Homo sapiens: one gene and its partners. The protein of the gene in region 1 purifies or fractionates together with the protein of each later gene. This does not show direct contact. Each region holds a gene or a part of one and is shown on either strand. Other genes may lie near its edges.

Region 1 (7,060 bases):
AGGAATGGTGATAATCGGTCTGTTTACAGAGTGCCAGGCAAGCACTATTATTAGCTCCATTTTATAGACACTCCGCATATATTATCATAGATAGTCTGCATATGTTTAATCTTTCCTACACCCTTACAGGACAGATATTATTATGGTCTCCATTCTGCAAATAGGAGAAATGAGGCTCAGAGGGATGAAGACTTTCTCGTCCACATCCGCCATGCTAGTGAACAGCAGTGCTGGGATCTGAACCCAGGTTTCAAAGAGCATCTATTATTCATTATTTATTGGGGCCTTCCTGGATGCCTGACACTATAACAATAACGACGACAATAATAATACTAATTCCTTGTGTTCCAGGTCATAGAATGTGAAAGGAAAATAAATCTTGGGGCCCCCAAATCACTAAGCTAAAGGGAAAAGTCAAGCTGGGAACTGTTTAGGGCCAACCTACCCCCCATTCTATTCAAAGGCAGCCCTCTGCTCACTGACATAGATGCATTATCTGTTTGTCTCCTTTGGAAAGGCTAATCAGAAACTCAAAAGAATGCGACCATTTGTCTCTCACCTACCTGTGACCTGGAAAACCCCTCCCTGCTTCAAGTTGTCCTGCATTTCTAGATCGAACCAATGTACTTCTTACATATATTGATTGATGTCTCATGTCTCTCTAAAATGTATAAAATTAAGCTGTGCCCAGACCACCTTGGGCATGTGACAGGAGGACTTCCTGAGGCTGTGTCATGGGAGTGTCCTCAACCTCGGCAAAATAAACTTCCTAAATGAACTGAGATCTGTCTCAGATTTTCTGGGTTCACAGGTATGTACACATTTTACAGCATCACCTCACTTAAAACAACAATCCTTATGGTATAACCATTTGAACCCTAATTTCCAGATGAGGAAACAAAACAGAAGCACAAAGTGAAGTAATTTGCACATCCTGCTGGTTAAAGTTGGAGCCAGTTTCGGAACTCATGCCCTGCTCCCCAGCCAACTCAGAAATCTGGCTGACCCTGTCATCAGCACGTGGCCCCAGCGTGTCTCCCAGCCCACCACACCCGCTGGAGCCTCTGATGTTTATAATTCTACCAGGACTGGCTTGAAACTCCCCCTGAATGCTGCTGGGGCTTGTTCCTGCCCAGCCTGTGTTTGCAATGGCTTTGACTGATTTTCTGGAAGGCAAGCCTCTGCCGGGAACACATTCTTTTTAATGGAGTGTTAATCAGGAGGGAAGGAAAAGAAAGATTTTTCTACTGCCCAGCTTCACAGGGGCTGAGCTTCCTGTCTTCTCTCATTTTTCCCCCTAGTATGTTTATTTCTCCCAGGGTGGGATGCGGCAGTGAGAGCCCTGGGCCTAAAGCTGTGCATAGGCCCAGTCCCTACTCCACTCCTATTGCTGACTCATGGCATGACTGTGAACGAGTCCCACCTAGGCCTCAGCCTCCTCAGCTGCAAGATGGGCCTACCCTGCTACCCTGGAGTGGACTGAGGATGATTTTGGAGAAGTATAAGAATGTCAGCCCACCCTTGGCACCTAGTAGGTGCTCAGTAAATCATCACTTCTTCTTTCTGGCCTCCTAATTCCCAGACAACCTGGGTCTGACTCCTTGGTGGCCTTGAACAAGTTACTTTAATCTCTCCGTGCCTCAGTTTCCTCATCTGAAAAAAGAAGATAAACAGTACCCACCTCCTCTGGTTGTGGTATTAGCTGAGATATTATAGGCAACAGCAGTTAGCAAAGTGCTGAGCGAATAGTTAGCACTCAGAGTTACCAGTTAGTGTTACTACAATTACTGGTAAGCCTCAGTTTCCCTGTCTGGGACAAGGAGAGGTGTTTCACCGGAAACCAGTTGCGGTTATTAACACTATCATTGTTCAGCCTTAACGTGCACTTCTAGACTCTGTTATGATGCTGGAGTGCACAAAATCCCGTTTCTTCTTTGTTTTTTAATTCTTTGATATCTGCTTAACCTATTCTTTATATTAAATGCCCTCTGTCAAAATATCCAACATGGTTTCTATTTTCCTGTCTGTACCATGATTGATGAGCACCCAGAGGCCCCAATAGCTGAGTCAGGCAGGTTAAGATCTCTGCTGGGAGCCGGGAGAGAAGTTTTCCGTAAAGATAACTTTGCAGGCTGCATTCCTGAGCCCTGAGGTCACCTGTGTCACACTGTCCCAACGTCAGCTCCCAGGAAACTTTCTCTGGCTATTCCCAGGGCTGAGGGCTACATCCCGGCCTCCCCATTCTCTCTCCCTCCTGCCCCTGACTTACCAGACACCTCCACGTATCCATCTTTGGTCTTCACCATCAACTCCTCTGGCTTGAAGCTGTGCACATTCACACACACTTTCCAGGGCTCCCCAGGGAAGGGTGGGGGGGTCCTGCCCTCGGCAGGCACCCCAAACCTGGCGGTGGCAGTGGGGCCCCGGGGCACCATGCCCGACCTTAGGGTGCCTGGCCAGGCGGAGGAGAGACGAGGCAGAGCCCAGTCGGGCCAAGAGGCTGTCAAGTCGTCTGGGAAGGGGTCCATGCCAAAGCCATCATCCAGCAGGCGAGAGGAGAGGGGAGAGTCCCGGAAGGGGTCTCGGCGCAGGCGGCTTGGGTAGTGGCAGGAGAAGGGCATCTGACCGTCAGCCATGGTGGCTGCTCAGCTCAGAGAGAAACAGAGGCTCAGAGAGACAGAACCACCTGCCCAAGGTCACACAACAAGGTGGTGTGGCTGGGCTAGCTTATTCTTCAGCTTCCGAAAATGCTGCTTTTCTGCAGGGAGAAGCAGAACCAACCACTGCCAGGGACGGTTGTGTCCCCTCGACTGGGGTCCCAGCCCCCAAAGGTAACCCCCGGGGCAGATCCAGCAGAATCCCAGAGGGTCCCCGTCCGCACTGCCTCACGACAGACCGGCAAGCCACCGTCCTCCCAGGCTTCCCAGGCTGCCCAGGCTGGCAGCCAGAACCGCTGAGGTCTAGAGCGGAGCCAGGAGCTTAATAAACCCAGGGCACGCGCGCCTAGAAACTTCTTCTGGCTCCTTCTGGGCTGCAAGCCTTCTATTTATTTGCTGCTGGAGGCTGGAGGCGGGTTTTGCAAGCGTCTCCTGTCACAGGAATATTCGGAGGTGATGAACCAGCCCCGGAGAATCCGCGGAGGGAACAGCTGGGCTGTGGGGGGAGCTGGGAGGGGCCGCGTCCAAGTTCAGCCGGCCTCTCCGGACACTCTCTCCTCCCCTGGCCACTCCGCTCAGCTCCGCCCTCCTCTTGCTCCAGGAGCTGGAGCCGCCCTCCCCGAGCGGGGCACTAAGGCCTGGCTATTAATAACCCCGAGCCTGGCTGAGGGCTCAGGTCACCCTCTGGAAATACCTTCCCTAGAGCGTGTCGTATCCTGCCTTTCCCCTGGGGACCTGCAGAAAGGGAAGAGAGAGACAGGAGCCCAGTGGATTTGAAGGATGGCCCTGGGTTGCAATCCCCACTTACAAGATGGCCAAGCTCCTAGAGCCTCAATGCCCTCTGGGGAGATTGGTAAAGGAAAAAAAAAATTTTTTTAATGTGTATATATATATTCATATGACGCTTGTTAAAGTATGACAAGCAAGACTTTACTGGGCAGGGAAACTTTCTCCATAGATGTAGGGACCCCTGCAATGGGATTTTGCAGTGAGGGAGAAAGATTAGACTTGATTCCCAGTAGGTCATGGGTAAGTGTGAATTTGTAGCCAAGAAGCAGGTGGGGGGTCAGCGAATGGAAATTTACTAGGAGGGAAGTCCAGGAGTCAGAGGGATTCGGGCTCAGCTAACCTAAGAGGATTCTTGCTGAAGACAGGCCAGGGTGCTCAGACATCACCTGGGGGACCGCGGAGGATGAGGAAACTAATCAGATATCGAGGGTGATCAGAAATCGAAGATGGGTGGTTGCTACTAAACAGACTTAGCAGAGTTCATGCCAAAACTGAATTTTTCTTTCTTTCTTTTCTTTTTTTTTTTTGAGACAGAGTCTCACTCTGTCCCCCAGGCTAGAGCGCAGTTGCGCCATCTCCGCTCACTGCAACCTCCGCCTTCCAGGTTCAAGCGATTCTTCTGCCTCAGACTCCCGAGTAGCTGGGATTATAGGCACCCGCCATCGTGCCCGGCTAATTTTTGTATTTTTTAGTAGAGTTGGATTTCACCATCTTGGCCAGGCTGGTCTTGAACTCCTGACCTCATGATCCACCTGCCTCCACCTCCCAAAGTGCTGGGATTACAGACGTGAGCCACCTCGCCTGGCCCAAAACTGAATTTTTATAAGGAACCTCACTGATGGGCTTAGGAGAAGATTCAGAAATCCGATTAATGTTTGGTCAATCAAAGCATCTTTATAGGCAGTAACATTATTCCCAGGCACCTCCAGGTTGTTAGTTTTCCTCCTTATAAACGGACATAACAGTAGCCAACTCACAGATGTACCATGAAGAATACATGAGGTAATTCTCTTTCTCCTTGTATTTTCAATTTTGAGTTATCAATTACATAATGTTTGCTATATGCCAGGCCCTGCTCTATGGGCTTTATAAATATGAATTCATTTAACCCTCACCAGCAATCCTGTGAGGTAAGAGTACCAGTATTATCCCATTTTACAGATGAGAAAACTACCATAGAAGTGTTCATGAATAGTAGCTTCTATTATTATTATGACTGTTAATACTGATAATTATTGAAAGATGTTACACTCAGGCAGGAGGTCTGGTCTGAAACTCAAAGCCCCAAATCTAGACTTTCCTGCTCTTCCCATGCAGCTGGAAGAATGAATTTACAAATCCTCCTTTGGCTTGGAGGCCTCTTCGGCTTGGGTTCTAATCTTTGATCTGTCCGCAACAGGCAGAAAATTTTAGGCATGTCGTTTTCCCTGTGTGGGCTTTCGGGTCTCAGCCCTGCCTTCTTCACGAGATGAGGGTAAACTGAGGATATTAAGGAATTCAGTGAGTCATAGGTTGAGAAATTGTTTTGATATTAAACAGTGAGTGCATGAGGCAGTTTGCTAAAAATAATAATACGGAGAAAAACAATCACTGTCGCCCATTGCCTCCTGTGCGTCTGCTTTTAGAGTTAGTACATTTCAGACATTACTGAGTTAAATCCTGACTCGATAGTTAAACGTCACTATTATCATCACCCCCATTTTGCAGGTGAAAAAACAGAGGCACAGAGGTTTGACCCTTGCACACAGATATGGAGTGGCAGAGCCTGGGTGGGAACCTGGGTTGTTCTGAATCCCGGATCTGTGCTTAACCGACAGACAGAGACCCCTGCCCTCCTCCCCAGCTGAGAAAGAATGGTGGGGACCCCACGGCATGACATGTCCCGAGTGACTGGGCCCCCACTGGATGTAGGGTGAGCTCATCAGGCTGGAAGCTTCGGGCTGACGTCATGGCTGGGCACAGAAGCTTCAGCTCTCTCTGTAATTACAGCTGGGCGGGGCTGGCTGAGTTGGAAACCAGTTGTGGGGAGAATCACTGCAAGCCGCATGACGCACCGGAGAAACCTGGCCCTGCCTGGGACCTGGGCAGGGGCTGGGGTGAGGTTTCTGAGTGGGTGGGACAGAGTGGAATGAGTTTGTGTGCGGATTTGAGTGGGTGCAGGAGTGAGTCTGTGTTTATGCGCCGATAGGTCTGTGTTTGTTTATCGCCGAGTCTGCTGGTGGGTATGTTCAGGAAGAAACTCCCCTCCTTTTCCCTTCCCAGGCCATCCCCAAACCTCCAGAGGACCCCTCTGCCTCAAATGAGGCTCAGTTGGGACCAGGGGACCTGGAAGGAGGGGAAGCCTGGCGAAGGAGCAGGGAACCGAGCTGTGATGACCTAATCCACCTTCTCATTTCAAGGATGAGGGGGACGAAAGGGAGGATGCAAAGGTAGAAAATAGAAATAACAATCACTGGCATTTACGGGGCACTTGCCCCGTGCCAGCTTCTGTTCTGAGCACTTTAAATGTATGTTCCTAAACTCTTTTACTTCTCCCCACAATCCTATTAGGAAGGATGTTTTTAATTTATTTATTTATTTTGAGATGGAGTTTCACTCTTGTTGCCCAGGCTGGAGTGCAACGGCATAATCTTGGCTCACTGCAACCTCTGCTTCCCGGGTTCAAGTGATTCTCATGCCTCAGCCTCCAGAGCAGCTGGGATTGCAGGCACCTGCCACCACCCCTGGCTAATTTTTGTATTTTTAGTAGAGACAGGTTTTCACCATGTTTGTCAGGCTGGTCTCGAACTCCTGACCTCAGGAGATCCACCCACCTCGTCCTCCCAAAGTGCTGGGATTACAGGCATGAGCCACCATGCCCGTCAGGAAGGATGTTTTATTAAACTCATTTTAGAGATGAGGAAACTGAGGCACAGAGAGATTACCTGACATGCCTATGTCAGTGGCAGAGCTGGGATTTGAACCCCGGGCAGTTTGGTTCTTGTCTCATCTGCTACACTGCCTCTGAAGTCAAAGTCATGGCTCACATTTATTGAACACTAACCATGTACCCGGCCCTGTGGTCAACAGTTTTATCCATGACCTCATGGAATCCTTGTGGTTCAGAGAGGTCAAGCCACCTGCCCTGGACCACACAGCTGACCAAGGATTGGAATCCAAGCCAGGGCGCACTTGGCAGTGCACGGTAATAACCACTATGGGACAATATTGGCCCAGCCTTGCCCAGCGAGCCTTCCACACTGCCTGGTGTCCTGTTCCCCCTTGGGCTCTCATTGCATTTCTGGATCTGGTCAGCCCTTCATTTCAGGAAGCTGAGGAGGGAGGCAGCTGCTCCTGCTAACTCGGCCACCTGGTGAGGAGTTAGCTAACACATGAGGAAAGTGGTCACTAAACCCCATGGGCTGTCACCAATCAGGTGAAAATATGACGCCAGGCTCAGGGGAGGCCCGGGAGAAGAAGGGGCCTCCAAGCTGGTTCCGCCAGGGAAGAAGAGACCTTAGAGGGGACTGTGGTACAGGGGAAGGATGTTAGATCCTGGGAACCAGAGCCACGTTTCTCTTGGCTGCCATCCTCATAGAGCTTTCGTACGGGGCGTACCACCATTAATTCTCAAA
Region 2 (7,396 bases), on another chromosome or scaffold:
GGGATCCTCCCACCTGAGCCTCCTGAGTAGCTAGTACTGCAAGTATGTGCCACAATATCAGGCTAAATTTATTTTTAATTTTTATTGTAGAGACATGGTCTCTCTGTGTTGGTCAGGCTGGTCTCAAACTCTTGGCCTCAAGCGATCCTTTTGCCTCAGTCTCCCAAAGCACTGGGATTACAGGCGTGAGCCACCGGGCCCAGCCCCAACTATAGGGTGCCTGTATTTCTTCTTAGTTGTCTTGCAGATACCTCAAGCCTATCATAGATATAAATGAACTCATCAGCCATTCCCCAACCTGCTAAATTTCTAAACTTCCCCATTTGGACCCTTATTGTTCTAGTCAAGAGGTCTTGAAGCTCTTTCTCAATACAGTAAAAAGGCTTCCCTGAGTCTCTCAGACAGGCCTGTTGAAGCATCTCTTTTTTGTTGTTGTTCACATATGCCAAGCCAGAACAGAATGAAATTATACTCTTGAGTTATAAGTCATGTGTCCTGATTTTTGATTTGGAAAATATGATCACACATATCAAGAAAATGAGCAGAAGAGGCAGCCAAGTTGCCATGTTGTCTCAGGCCCTTTCTGCATGCCAATATCTGATACTGAAATTAATACATGTGAGCCTGAAGTGGGTAAGCAGAACAATCCCATGGAGCCTGCAAGCCAGACATGGGTATTTGATAGTGGAAGTGGGGAATTAATCAAAGGAAAAGACAGTACTAGAAATCATTGCCTTGGGTATTTGGTCCACACATCTACTTTCCTTAAATGATTTTTGTATTTTAATGGTGATATTTTTCAAATTGTTTGGGCAATTAAATACTTTTAATAATTAGTATAATACAGTATCGATTTTGTCTTAGCATTATGGCTTTTTCTGTTGATGCTTCCATTAGAATATGAGTGCCATGAAATTAGAAAATGTGTTTTGACCTTCCTTCTAATGCCCAGCCCAATGGCTTTGTGTAGATACACGTGCTTTGTGTAGATCTATGTGGAGATCCAGTTCCCTCTAAAGTCAACTGCAGTGGGCATCGTGAGTTGCAATAGAGAAAACACAATAAGGCAAGCAAGCATCAGGTCAAAAATAAAAAGTCAAGATAACATCTTAAATGAAAGCTTCTCTCCTTGTTATTTTCTAACTCTCCCCTCAATTTCCCCAAATATACAATGGATCACTTAAGAAGCCCCATCCTCTTCAGAGACAAGAAACATTTCCAATAACACACACTGAGAATAACCGCAGTTTCTTAGTGCCTTTGGAATATGCACTGAAATTCCGTGCAGTTCTGAAATTCTTCTTCTGAAAGTTGGGTGTGCCTTGTGCGGTGCATGTGCATATGTGTAGGTACATTATGCACGTGGGTGTGTGTGGGTGTGGCATACTGTTCTCCTGAAGGCACACTTTCTACACTGTTCAGGGGAGGGGAATGATAAAGCCACTTTTTCTCAAGGCAGATGGTATGAAATCCATATTCCCCAACCTCAAATATTCCTTCATCCCTCAAAGAGTCATGTTTAGGGGAGAAGGGTGAAGTCAGGGCATTGGGCTTAGTGTATTCTAATTCTTTCTACAAAGACCAACTAGATTTTCCAATTTGAAGAGGGTCCCTGGAGGGTTTCTTTTGTCGGCGGTGGGGGACAGGCAATTCTAGAAAGAATTGGGAACCTGGAACTCGCATTAGCAAGCAGTTGATCATAAAACAAAATGACTTGCTAAATTCCAATCAATGGCACACAGTGTGGTCTGAGAGTGATGTCCTGAATTCCCTTCCACAGTTATCTAGAGAAGGACTTAGATGGATATATTCCAATATTGGCGAGAGAGTCCCTTTAATTCATTCCAGCACTTATCCCACACTTCCCCAGCAGAAAAACTGGTTAATGTACATCCTGGGTAATTATCTGTGTCTCTGGATTTCATTCTTTAGTAACTAATCCCTCACCTACAACAGTGTATAGTAAGGTCAAGGATGAAATTTCTCAGAAACTCGCTCCCCACAGCACCACGCACAAGAAGACCCACCCATTCCAGCCAACCCCGTGTGTCCAAGTCCCATTCGCCCACATAAGCCTCTATTTGACAAATTCCTCGAGCTCCTACCCTTGGGGTGGGGACCTTTCGCCTCCCGTGAGGTGCCGGCTCTCCCGTGCTTCGCTGACTGCCCGCATTGGGTGGGGAGATTCGCCTCTGGTGCCGAGGGAAAACTGCGTTAGGCGAGGGTGGAAGCTCTGTCGGACCCGTGCGAGCACGTGGGTGCGCGCGGGCCGCGGAGTGAGCAGCAGCCAGGATTCCTCTCCAGATCGCGCCCCCGCCGCATTTCATTGCCTGAAACGGCCCACGCCCCGCGATGGCCCAGCAGACACCCGGCACAGCACAGCGTCACTGCGCGGCCCCCGCAGCGCACGGACCCCCCCACCCTGCCCGACCCCAGACCCGCAGCCGAGCCCGTCTGGTATGTGGTGGGTGGAGAGGGTACCAACTAAGCATCCCAAAGTCCTTCAGGGAGCAACTCCGCGCAGTTTTCTCTTCCCGACCCGCAGCCTCCGCAGCAGCCGCTCGGAGCACCCCCGGGCAGGTGCCCCGCGCGAGCTCAGCGCCTTCCCCGCGGATCCCCGGCCCCTGCGGGACCCAGGCCCAGGACAAAAGAAATGAATTTGCTCTGTACCTGATCCTGTCCTTCTCGGCCCTCTGTAACTCCTCATTCCTTTCCAGCACCTGAAGGATCTTCCTGGCCTCTTCGTCATTTAAGAAACTGAAATCAAACGCCGGAGGAACTTTCGTCATTTTCTTTACTGTGTGTGAGTTACACTTAAGCTCCTTGGCGCCTCCTGTTAGGAAGGCATTTTTCAACCTGTACAAGACCAGTTTCACGAACTTGATCCCACAGCCAATAATAAGTCCGCCCCTTTGAAAGTCTAAAACCACAAACCTAGGGAACGCCCACACCTGAAGGGCTCATATTGACAATACCTTAATGACATGTTTCTCTCAACCTGTCCAACCGAGATGCAAAGTGAACGGCTAAAGGGAGAGAGGGAACCAATCCCGTTCCAAGGGGGCGGGCCCTCCCTTGTCCCCTCCCTCGTCCCCTCCCTCGTCTCGTCCCGTCCCTCGTCCCCTCCCTCGTCCCCTCCGGTCACCCTCCCCGCCCCCTATCTGAGTTGTTAAGCAAACAAGCCTACATAATTCTGCCTCTTAAGTGAGGCAAGGCTAAGTGTTGGCGCCAAAGTATTTGCTTTTGCTGTTGCTGTTTGCTCGCAGAACTTGAGCTTGATTAGTAAAGGAGTGAAAAAGGAGATTCATGACTAATCCTCCCTTTCAATAATTAAGAGCCCATAGAAAATAGAATTGCAAGTAGGGTTTGTAACTGGCAAAAGGGTTACTTATCTGAAAGACCAGGAAGAACTAAACTCAATTACACTACTGACTGTGGATGAACCTGGCTGAAGGGCGGAAATTAGTGTATCCTTGGAAACGAATTATTTGCCAAGCCTCTCATCCCACAGACACCCCCACCTCCACTGTCCCACAAAAGTCATTCTTAGACTTTAGAAACAAACAAACAAACAAACAAAACCGTTTATGGTATTTTAGGAGAAGACAGCCCAGAAGCAAAGGACTGTAGAAAACACCTGTTAGAAGTTTTCTGTAAGATTTTATTATCATCTTAATAAACTCAGAGAAGTAATACACATGCCATTTAAAAATACCTAATCCTCTGGTGAAAGCAAATGGTAATCCTATGAAGCCACAGAAATAGCTTTCCTAGAAAGTCAATTGTTCCACAATGCAATGAAGAATAATAGAAACTTATAAAGATATTCACATATATACTTTTTTTTTAATTATCAAGGCTTTTACAGAAAACATGTTTTTATCTTGGCTTCACTTCCTACCCAAAAATAACTCTGTCAGATTGACTTTCCTGCCCCATAGCCTTAATTTGGTCATTTTGAAGATGGTGGTGATGATTACTAACATATAAAATGTACTTCTACATATATCATTTCTTTTCATGGCACATAAACCCAATTAAAATTTTGTATCTGTACAAGAACATGATATCAAAAATTGCCACTTGTGTTTTGTTCTCTGGGCTACCCCATTTGATCATCATTATTTAAAACATGCCTAGGCAGCTAGCCATTCAGATAACTTTCTGTGGGTGTCTGTTATTTGTGTGAACCAGGAACCAATTTTGTTCACCCATGGTGTACACAATACAGAACTCCTTTATAAATAGTGTCTGTATTAATGATCCTGTTTTGGGAGTATGTCTTGTATATGGTGTCCAGTTTTTCTAGTGTGTTCATTTATTCAGCATACACATGGGACTTTTCAATATGGTCACTGGTGGGATTTTACACTGTTTCCAGTATATCAGTGAACTGATTTCAACCAACGTATCCTGGTGCCTATTACATGAAGGCATCACACACTGTGAACAACACAGTCCTTGTCTTTAGAAAGTTTGTAATCCAGTGGGAGAGATACACAAATAGAAAGATGACTATGTAAAAAAGAACATAATAGAGGAATAAAGAAAATTCCATGAGCACACAGAAAAGTTAGTGCCAACTGAGTGGATGGAGAGAGGATACGGTATTTAGGTTGCTGCATGAAGAGTCAGATTTCAAGAGGAAGAAATAGGGGGTGGTGGGAGGAGATGTGTGAGTCTATTCTAGGCAAGGGGATCAGCGTGCTGAATAGCAGAAGTACAGTCTAGGAATCTTCTCATATTCCCTCAACCTCTTTAATGGCCAGACTGAACAAAAGCTTGGAAGCTAGAAAACACTGGAGCATGTTCATGGATTGTTAAGTGATCTGTTTTGGCAGAGCATGTAGTCTCCACAGGGGTAAAATCTTCCTCTTTTTATGTAGAAAGCACAAATCTACACATGATACACAGATACACAGTATATCTGAAGTATTAACATTGCACAAGGGAGGTGATTGTGAAAAAAGTTCTAAAAAGGTGCATTGTGGGGACAGTAGTGAGAAAGAGGTTTAGAAACACTGGGCTAGTGCTCAGAGCACAGTGAGCTGAAAGGTAGGCTGAGCTCTGACTATGAATGCCATGTGATGAAATCTAGACTTCATTGTGTAAGCACTGAGGAGCTAATACAGGTTTTGAGGGTGATAATGATACAGTTAAAATTGAACTTAAGGCCGGGCACAGTGGCTCACATCTGTAGCCCCAGCACTTTGGGAGGCGGAGGCGGGCAGATCACGAGGTCAGGAGATTGAGACCATCCTGGCTAACACAGTGAAACCCCGCCTCTACTAAAAATACAAAAAATTAGCCCAGCATGTGCACCTGTAGTCCCAGCTACTCGGGAGGCTGAGGCAGGAGAATCGCTTGAACCCGGGAGGCGGAGGTTGCAGTGAGCCGAGATCACACCACTGCACTCCAGCCTGGGCAACAGAGTGAGACTCTGTCAAAAAAAAAAATTGAACTTTGGGTAGATTACTCTGATAGCAGTAGACAAGAAGAGTAGAGTGAAGATGGCATCAAGGAAACCATTGTGTTGGAATGCTGATGCAGGAGAAAGGGAAAGAGGACCCAACCAAAGGCAATGTAAGTGAGAGTAGAAAAAGAGGGTGGAATTCCAAAGATATTGGCTGGATTTGATAACTCATTAAAAAGGAGGATTAAGAAAGACAGAGACGCAAAGATGATGCAAGATCTCAAGAGAGATGTCTAAAAGGAGACCAGTCTATTTGATAGTATGAGAAACAAGGTTTGTCAAGAAATCAGGTGTTCAGTTTTTGGCACAAGCAGTTTGAGGTACCTGCAATTCATCCACATGGCAATTTAAAATGAGAAATGTGGGACTCAAGTTCTTGAAACAGGGATGGAGAAGTAGACTGGGAAGTTGTCTGCTTAAAAATGGTTGCCAAAACCCTAAGATAGCAAAGGAAGGATGAGGAGCAGAAGCTGAGTTGAGAACTTTGAGTGTCCAACCTCATCAGACTTCAGCACTGAGGCATGCTTCAGCCCTGGGTTGTGGCACAATGGGGCATACTATTGAGAAATTTTTATATTGAGAAATTTACAAGGCATTGGGGACTGCCCTGGAAACCATACAGAACTGCTTTTGTGGAGTTTTAAACACAATGCTCTTAAAATTAAAATAATTCTCCAAAGGTTTGTTTTATGGGCTTATTTAGCCGGAGGCAAGCAGCCATTTTCAATCTTAGTATCCGGTAATCCTGGCAACCTTTTGCCCAGGCTCTCAGCTAAAGAGATACTCATCAGTTTAGTATTTAATAGTCACAGCTGGATAGAAAGCAGTGATCTTTAGAAATCTCTCATAGTCCCCTACCCTCTCTAGTCTGTTGGCCAAATCCCCACCACAGGGCTTAGTTTTTTCCATCCTTGACAATCACCAAGCCAAGAGACATGCTGATCACATCACTTGCTTGAATGTCTGATTTTTTTATTTTTATTTTTATTTTTCTTGAGATGGAGTCTCACTCTGTTGGCCAGGCTGGAGTGCAGTGGCTCAATCTCAGCTCACTGCAATCTCCGCCTCCAGGGTTCAAATGATTCTCCTTCCTCAGCCTCCCAATTAGGTGGGATTACAGGCGCACGCCACCGCACCCAGCTAATTTTTGTATTTTTATTAAAGAAGGAGTTTCACTATGTTGGACGGCTGATCTTGAATTCCTGACCTCAGGTGATTTAAATATTAACATAGTTTGCTTTATCATTAGATCAAAGTAATAACACATTATTATCAAAAGTTCTCTGATAAAATTCAAGATTGCTTTTTGTTAGGACTAAACTAAATTGAGCTAAATTTAAAAATACTTGGTAATCCTTTAGAAAGGATTTTTCCTTGATGTGGCAAGGAATGTCTGTCCCAGACAACACCAGTATTATAATTAATGGTGAGTCTGTGAAGTAACAACAAATCAGAGGTACCTGCTATTCCCTGTCTTGTGTAACATTGTTCTGGTAGTTCTAGTTGATACAATAGGGAAGGAAAAAAACAATGTGGTGTAACTCTTAGAAAAGAGAAAATTGATCATAGATGATAATTATCTACTTAGGAAAAAGACCAAAGAAATTTGTTAAAAAAAACCACAAAAACTATTAGAACTAAAGAAGGAGTACGAATTAGTGGCCATGTGTGGCTTCATTCAAAAAATATTTATGGAATGTCTACTATCCATTGGGAAATGTTCTAGGAGCTGTGTAGACAAGATGTTCCTGCGCTCAAAACGTTAGCTTCTAATGCATAGAGGTTAAAAAATAAATAAATAAACAAATCAACATCAATTTAGAGTGTGATAAGTGTTGTGAACCAAGTAAACAGGGTGGAGAATGGGAGGGATGCAGGGAGGGCTCCAGCCAGAGTGGTCAGGCTGGAGACTGACCCGCATGA
Region 3 (7,024 bases), on another chromosome or scaffold:
ATGGATTCCTATTTTATGTAACAGGTTAAAACCAATTACCATCATCATTTATTTTTATGCTCAAATTGTCCCAGATTTCAGCCACTTCAACCTGGGAACTCCATCATTTTGACATATCGACATCATTTGTTGAATATTTCCTTACTCTCTGGCACAAAAAGATGGTCCAGGCTCATCTTCTGCATTCCCTGACCTAATCCTTTTAGAGAGCATGGTATTTAGAAACCAATGTCCAGGTACTTGGTATGATCACTGCTACTAGAACATCATAGTTTTTTTTTGCCGGGGGGGGGGGGGGGGGGGTAAGGTCACAGATCAACAGGATAAGAATTTTTCTTAGTACAGAACAAAATGAAAAGTCTCCCATGTCTACCTCTTTCTACACAGACACGGCAACCATCCGATTTCTCAATCTTTTCCCCACCTTTCCCCCCTTCTGTTCCACAAAACCGCCATTGTCATCATGGCCCGTTCTCAATGAGCTGTTGGGTACACCTCCCAGACGGGGTGGTGGCCAGGCAGAGGGGCTCCTCACTTCCCAGTAGGGGCGGCTGGGCAGAGGGCTCCTCACTTCCCAGTAGGGGCGGCCGGGCAGAGGCGCCCCTCACCTCCCGGACGGGGCGGCTGGCCGGGCTGGGGGCTGACCCCCCCACCTCCCTCCTGGACGGGGCGACTGGCTGGGCAGAGGAGCTCCTCACTTCCCAGTAGGGGCGGCCGGGCAGAGGTGCCCCTCACCTCCCGGACGGGGCGGCTGGCCGGGCGGGGGGCTGACCCCCCCACCTCCCTCCCGGACGGGGCGGCTGGCCTGGCGGGGGCTGACCCCCACCTCCCTCCCGGACGGGGTGGCTGCTGGGCGGAGACGCTCCTCACTTCCCAGACAGGGTGACTGCCGGGACGGAGGGGCTCCTCACTTCTCAGATGGGGCGGCTTCCGGGCGGAGGGGCTCCTCACTTCTCAGACGGGCGGTTGCCAGGCGGAGGGTCTCCTCACTTCTCAGACGGGGCGGCCGGGCAGAGACGCTCCTCACCTCCCAGACGGGGTCGCGGCCGGGTGGAGGTGCTCCTCACATCCCAGACGGGGCGGCAGGGCAGAGGCTCTCCCCACATCTCAGACGATGGGCGGCCGGGCAGAGACGCTCCTCACTTCCTAGATGGGATGGCGACCGGGAAGAGGCGCTCGTCACTTCCTAGATGGGATGGCGGCCGGGCAGAGACGCTCCTCACTTTCCAGACTGGGCAGCCAGGCAGAGGGGCTCCTCACGTCCCAGACGACGGGCGGCCAGGCAGAGACGCTCCTCACTTCCCAGACGGGGTGGCGGCCAGGCAGAGGCTGCAATCTCGGCACTTTGGGAGGCCAAGGCAGGCAGCTGGGAGGTGGAGGTTGTAGCGAGCCGAGATCACACCACTGCACTCCAGCCTGGGCACCATTGAGCACTGAGTGAACCAGACTCCGTCTGCAATCCCAGCACCCCGGGAGGCCAAGGCTGGCGGATCACTCGCGGTTAGGAGCTGGAGACCAGCCCGGCCAACACAGCGAAACCCCGTCTCCACCAAAAAAATACGAAAACCAGTCAGGCGTGGCGTCGCGCGCCTGCAATCGCAGGCACTCGGCAGGCTGAGGCAGGAGAATCAGGCAGGGAGGTTGCAGTGAGCCGAGATGGCAGCAGTACAGTCCAGCTTCGGCTGGGCATCAGAGGGAGACCGTGGAAAGAGAGGGAGAGGGAGACCGTGGGGAGAGGGAGAGGGAGAGGGAGAGCAATCCTATTTTTTTAACTAAATATGAGAACATCATAGTTTTTAGGCTGCCTTAGGAGACAGCTAGAAAATATGTGTATGTATACATATACACATACTATCTCTATCTATTTGTTCATATATATTGTTTAAAAAAAGTCATGATTCATAATAACACCAATTCCAATCCAATACCTTAGAGTTTTTTCTTGCCTTCCCCCTTTCCATGGTTATAAATCCCTCATCCAACAGTGAGAAGCATAACTCTTATTATCCTTAATATATTCATTCATTTGCTCAATCTATTTACTTATTTGCTCAACATAACCAATCTCCCAATCACACCAGCCCCTGTGTGTTTGCTGCCCTATTTATCACAGCTGTCTTCTTGTTGGAATGCTGATACCTCCATGCCTGGTAAAGAATGGAGGGGAAGGGAAAGGAAAGAAATAAGGATGGGGAGAGAAAAATAGGAAAGGTGGGGAAAGGAGTGAGGGGAAGATGGGAAAAGGCAAGGGAAGGGAAAATGGGAAAAGAAAGGAAAGAAAGGGAAGCAGACACTCACCTTTAAAACACCTTCCACAGCCATCTTCCCTTCATGACCTAGTAAAATACTATATGGATAAAGCCACTGGATTGCATGTTTGATTGGCATCATAGGAAAGGAATCCTATGTAGGAGCAAAAATACATAGGAATGAGCAAAATTCAAAATAATCACAGAAAACATCTGAAATGTACATATGACATTAAAATTGACTTATAAAAGTAACCAATAGGTGTCTGGTATTTTCTGTAAGTCTACAAAAGCAAATATTCATTATTTTCTCTTCTCATTCCTTGCCCTTTCTCTGGGTAAGCTTACCCATTCCCATCTTTCATTTATCTTCTATGTATTGATGGCTCCCACACTTCTATGTCTGGTCTTGACTTCTTTCTTGAGCTCTAAACCTGAACCCTCAATTGTTCATTACATGTGACTATATGAATATCCCATAGACCCCCATTTGAAACAGAATACATGTCTCTACCTTATTCATCCCAAAGTACCTGATCCCTTTTTATTCCTAAGTTAATCTCATCCACATTCACTTAGCTTCACAGTTATAACTACAAAATTAGAAAGTATTCATTATCCTCAAATCCTTCCTCACATTATCTGCACTGTCAATTCTGTTCACCCCACTTTAAAAGTCTGTTGACAAGAAAGATTAGTGAAATTTCAATATGAACTATCTATTAGATGATACTATGGATTACTGTTAACATGATATGAAGTGTGATAATGTTGTTCTGGTTATGTAGAAGAATGTCCTAATTCTTAGAAGTTGCATACTGATATGGTTTGGCTGTGTCCCCACCCAAATCTCATCTTGAATTGTAGCTCCCACAATCCCCACGTGTCATGGGAGGGACCCAGTGGGAGACAACTGAATCATGGAGGCAGTTAACCTCCATGCTGTTCTCATGATAGTGAGTTCTCATGAGATCTGATGGCTTTATAAAGGGCTTTTCCCCTCCTTCACTCTGCACTTTTCTCTCCTGCCACCATGTGAAGGACGTGTTTGCTTCCTCTTCCACCACGATTGTAAGTTTCCTGAGGCCTCCATAGCCTTGCAGAACTGTGAGTCAATTAAACCTCTTTTCTTTATAAATTACCCAGTCTCAGGTATTTCTTCATAGCAGCGGGAGAACGAACTGATACACACACTGAAGTATTTAAGAGTACTGACTGCAATTTACTTCCAAATGGTTCAGGAAAAAAAAAAAGAAAAAAGCACATGCAAACAAATGTGGCAATATATTAATAATGGGTGATTGTAGGTGAGGGGATTATGAATGTTTTACTGTTTTTCAACTTTTTTTTACATTTGAGAATTTTCAAAGTAAAATGTTCTAAGCAAAAACAAAAGATTTCATAAGAATTTTCAAAATAAAATGTTCTAAGCAAAAACAAAAAGATTTGATAAAAGTATAAGATTTGATAAACAGGAGGAGAAATTCTGTTCTGGATGTATAGAACAATGTCAACAATACCTAGGCTCCCTGACTCACATGAAACATACATATATACATACATACATACATACATACATACATACATACATACATACAAGTTTAAAAATAAGTCTCTTGCCTAAGATAGTATTCCCACTATCTTGGATGGTGCCCTCCTCCACAGGGTCTCACTGAGTGTTACAAAAGCTTCCTAGTCATTCCCTCACTTCCAACAAAGGTGTCTTCCTCCAACATAAGTCTGGTCACATTCATAGCCCACCAACTTAATATTGTCTGATAAGCCACTTTTTCCATATCATAAAATCCAGGAAACTTCATTCATCATGCAAAACATTTCACAATAGCGGTCTGACTTCTCCCTCTACCACACACACTTGCTTTAGGGATACAACTTATTCTCATTCTCCAAAGATACTAGGCCCTTTTGTGATTAAACACATTTGCCTGTGCTTTGACTTCCTGGGCCTTTTATCACTCCAGACATGACCGCCATGCCCTTTGTGAAACTGTAGTGGACAATGTCTGTACTCTATCAGATCCCCTCAGATCTGTTTGCATTCTCTCTTGTGCCTCCTAGCTTTCTCTTCCAACAGCAATTGCTGTAGGTCTTTCTAAGAAGACGATCCTTGGGCTCTTGAAGCCACCCTTGCACACATGCTGGGAGAGCAGTTAGTGTCTGGGAATTTGTGTCCCCTGAGACAACCATGACACAGAGACTGATGGAAGCTAGAACAGTGTGAAAGCCCTAGCTCCCCTAACTCAGGTAAGGACAGCTCTGAGGCCTAACTCACACTGCAGCACACCTCTTACTTGATCAGGCTAAAGCCTTCCTTCCCTCTGTAGAACTTTACTGAGATTGCATGTCTAGCTCCTACTCCAAAGCTGAAAGCTCTTTAGGGGCTCAGAACATGTCCTTGGTCTCTGTACAGTTTACTGCACTGCACAACAAATTAATCTCAGGCCTTACAATATTTATAGAAGAGTATGACAAAAGCAAACTGAAGTCATTAATCCCTAATGATTAACTTTCAAAATTTTTAACATATTTGGGTATGCCAGTCATTAATTTATTTTACTTACCAAGATTTGAACCGCAGCTGCTAAACTATCTAAAGGAAAGTCTGGAAGTCCAAGAGTAGAAGATTCTTGGGAACACAGAGTTGTGGCAAAGGACAAGAGCTGAGAAACTCTAAGGGAAAAATGATATTAAATTTTAATAGTTTTAAAATATAAAATGTGTAAGTTGTTAAATATAAAATACAGGGGCCAATTTAATTAATCTAAAAAAGATCCCTAATATTAATTCTTAAGGAACAATGGTTCCGCATCATAATATCCTACTTAAAACTCAGAAGCTGATTAGATGCAAATATATTCCTAAATTCATCACAATATTTGAGGTTTTTCACCACCTGGTCCAAATCTACCCTGCCAGCCTCATCTCTCACATTTCGTAATCCCAAACCTAAACTCTAGCCTCCAAGAGTTTTTTATGGCCCTAAAAACAAGGCATAAACTCTCACATTCCATGCTTTTAAAACAAACAAACAAACAAAACAAAAAAAAAACACTTGTTGTGTTCGAATTTCTTGATTCCACTCTCTATCTGGCAAAAACTTGCTCATTATTTAGGACCCATTTCAAACACCAATGCTTTTATGAAGCCCTTATAAAGTCTCAACTAATGCCCCCAAATATTTTCAAATTATGGCACTTACTATACCATGTTAACCAAAGCTATTCACATATCTTTCAACTCTATTAGATCTTGAGTTTCCTGCCAAAGATATCTTATTAATTTTATCACCAAACATCCTAATACTGAAAAATTCTTATAAGAATTCTAGTTGTTGAATGACTGAATTAATTAATCAATCAATCAATGAACAGGCAAAACAAATTCAATATTCAGTGTCCAGACATTTATAAAAATATACTTACTTCTCAGCAGAAACATTGGCTCCAATTGAATATAACAACTTAAGTTGGTCCTAAAGTAATACAGAAACATATTAAATTAATTAACAAGAAATGTAACAGATTAAATGCAAATGTTTTGTAGATACAATCCAACCTTTTAATTAAGCAGACACTAAATATTTAACAGCAAAAAATCATTTATTGATACATTTCATTTTCTAAAAGAAAAGCCAGCCTTTTAAAAAAAATCCTTCAAATAATGCCATAATAATTTTTCTTCCTAGTTTCCAGAGCTTTTCTTTACTCTTTATTCTCATATCTTTCCATGACCTACTCAGGAAGACATTCAAAACTGCAGTAACATTTTTATAGCATTGAAGTTCTTGTTATAAATAGAAAAACTGTTTAACAAATAAATTATCCTTGGTCTTACTTACCTTGAAGGGTAAATAATAAATATCCCTGGCTTGAAATCGAGAACGAAGAGGGGGGTCTAATGGATTCCCAGAATACCTTGGCACTGGCAAGCCCAAGGCAATCACTCGGAAATTTTCACTAACTCGGACAATTTTCCAAGAATCCAACTCTTTTTTGGTATGATCCTATAAAAGTAAGAGATCCGGAAGCTATAGCATAAATGATACAAATCACAACTGTAAGAGCTGCCAAGTCCAGGGACTTAGGACTTGACTGTTGAGAAAACTGTATTGGAGAACACTCTCAAATCCATACTGTCAAGGAAGGCAGCAAAGTGAAATCAGGTTCAGGATGCCAGGGCAGGCTCACAACATGAAGACTGGGGTGTTTGAAAGGAAAAGCAGTTAACACACCAAGGAATAAAGGAGACTTGGGTCAGATCTCCAAGCCTTAGTCAGTAACACAGAGGAAAACAGTCAGGGGGTAAGGAAAATACATGACTAGAGGTTGTAACAAAGGTAGTCCCCGACGGGCAGATCACCAGCAAAGCTGTGATTGATTACCAGTGGACCTTAAATAGATAATTATGTTTATGGTTATTCCTAGCAAAGCATATTACTAGCAATAACTAACATGTTTTGGAAACTTACTATGTGGTAAGCACATTCCATGGATTTTTCTCATTTAACTTTCACCAGAATCCAATATAGACTATCTCCTTTTTATATGAATGAATGAATCAAAGTTCAAAGGAGTTATATAACTTGCCCATCGTCCTGCAACTAGCATACAGTGGAGCTTAGAGAATGGAAACAGTATGGGTTTTAGAGTCACAAATCCTGGCTCAACTGCTTGATGTACACTTTTACTAAATGTTAGCGTATGCATGGTATTATACCTTTGGAACCTTAGCCTTCTTAGTAGGAAAAATATCAC

Evidence for each region. The genes of interacting proteins can lie anywhere in the genome.
Region 2: the proteins of HSPB8 (region 1) and EXPH5 purify together in Homo sapiens (affinity purification with mass spectrometry; 3 studies listed by BioGRID and IntAct, with this or other methods). This does not show direct contact.
Region 3: the proteins of HSPB8 (region 1) and VWA8 purify together in Homo sapiens (affinity purification with mass spectrometry; 3 studies listed by BioGRID and IntAct, with this or other methods). This does not show direct contact.

Annotation. Positions count from the first base shown.
Region 1 is NC_000012.12:119,174,889-119,181,948, reverse strand, and holds the start of HSPB8 (heat shock protein beta-8), read right to left. Parts: upstream 3,019-7,060; 5' UTR 2,637-3,018; coding exon 2,270-2,636; intron 783-2,269; exon of another isoform or gene 1-782. UniProt on the Homo sapiens protein: Involved in the chaperone-assisted selective autophagy (CASA), a crucial process for protein quality control, particularly in mechanical strained cells and tissues such as muscle. Displays temperature-dependent chaperone activity.
Region 2 is NC_000011.10:108,590,748-108,598,143, forward strand, and holds the start of EXPH5 (exophilin-5), read right to left. Parts: upstream 3,022-7,396; 5' UTR 2,987-3,021; coding exon of another isoform or gene 2,976-2,986; 5' UTR 2,790-2,975; coding exon 2,671-2,789; intron 1-2,670. UniProt on the Homo sapiens protein: May act as Rab effector protein and play a role in vesicle trafficking.
Region 3 is NC_000013.11:41,881,089-41,888,112, forward strand, and holds part of VWA8 (von Willebrand factor A domain-containing protein 8 isoform a precursor), read right to left. Parts: intron 6,274-7,024; coding exon 6,109-6,273; intron 5,743-6,108; coding exon 5,693-5,742; intron 4,941-5,692; coding exon 4,832-4,940; intron 2,404-4,831; coding exon 2,299-2,403; intron 1-2,298. UniProt on the Homo sapiens protein: Exhibits ATPase activity in vitro.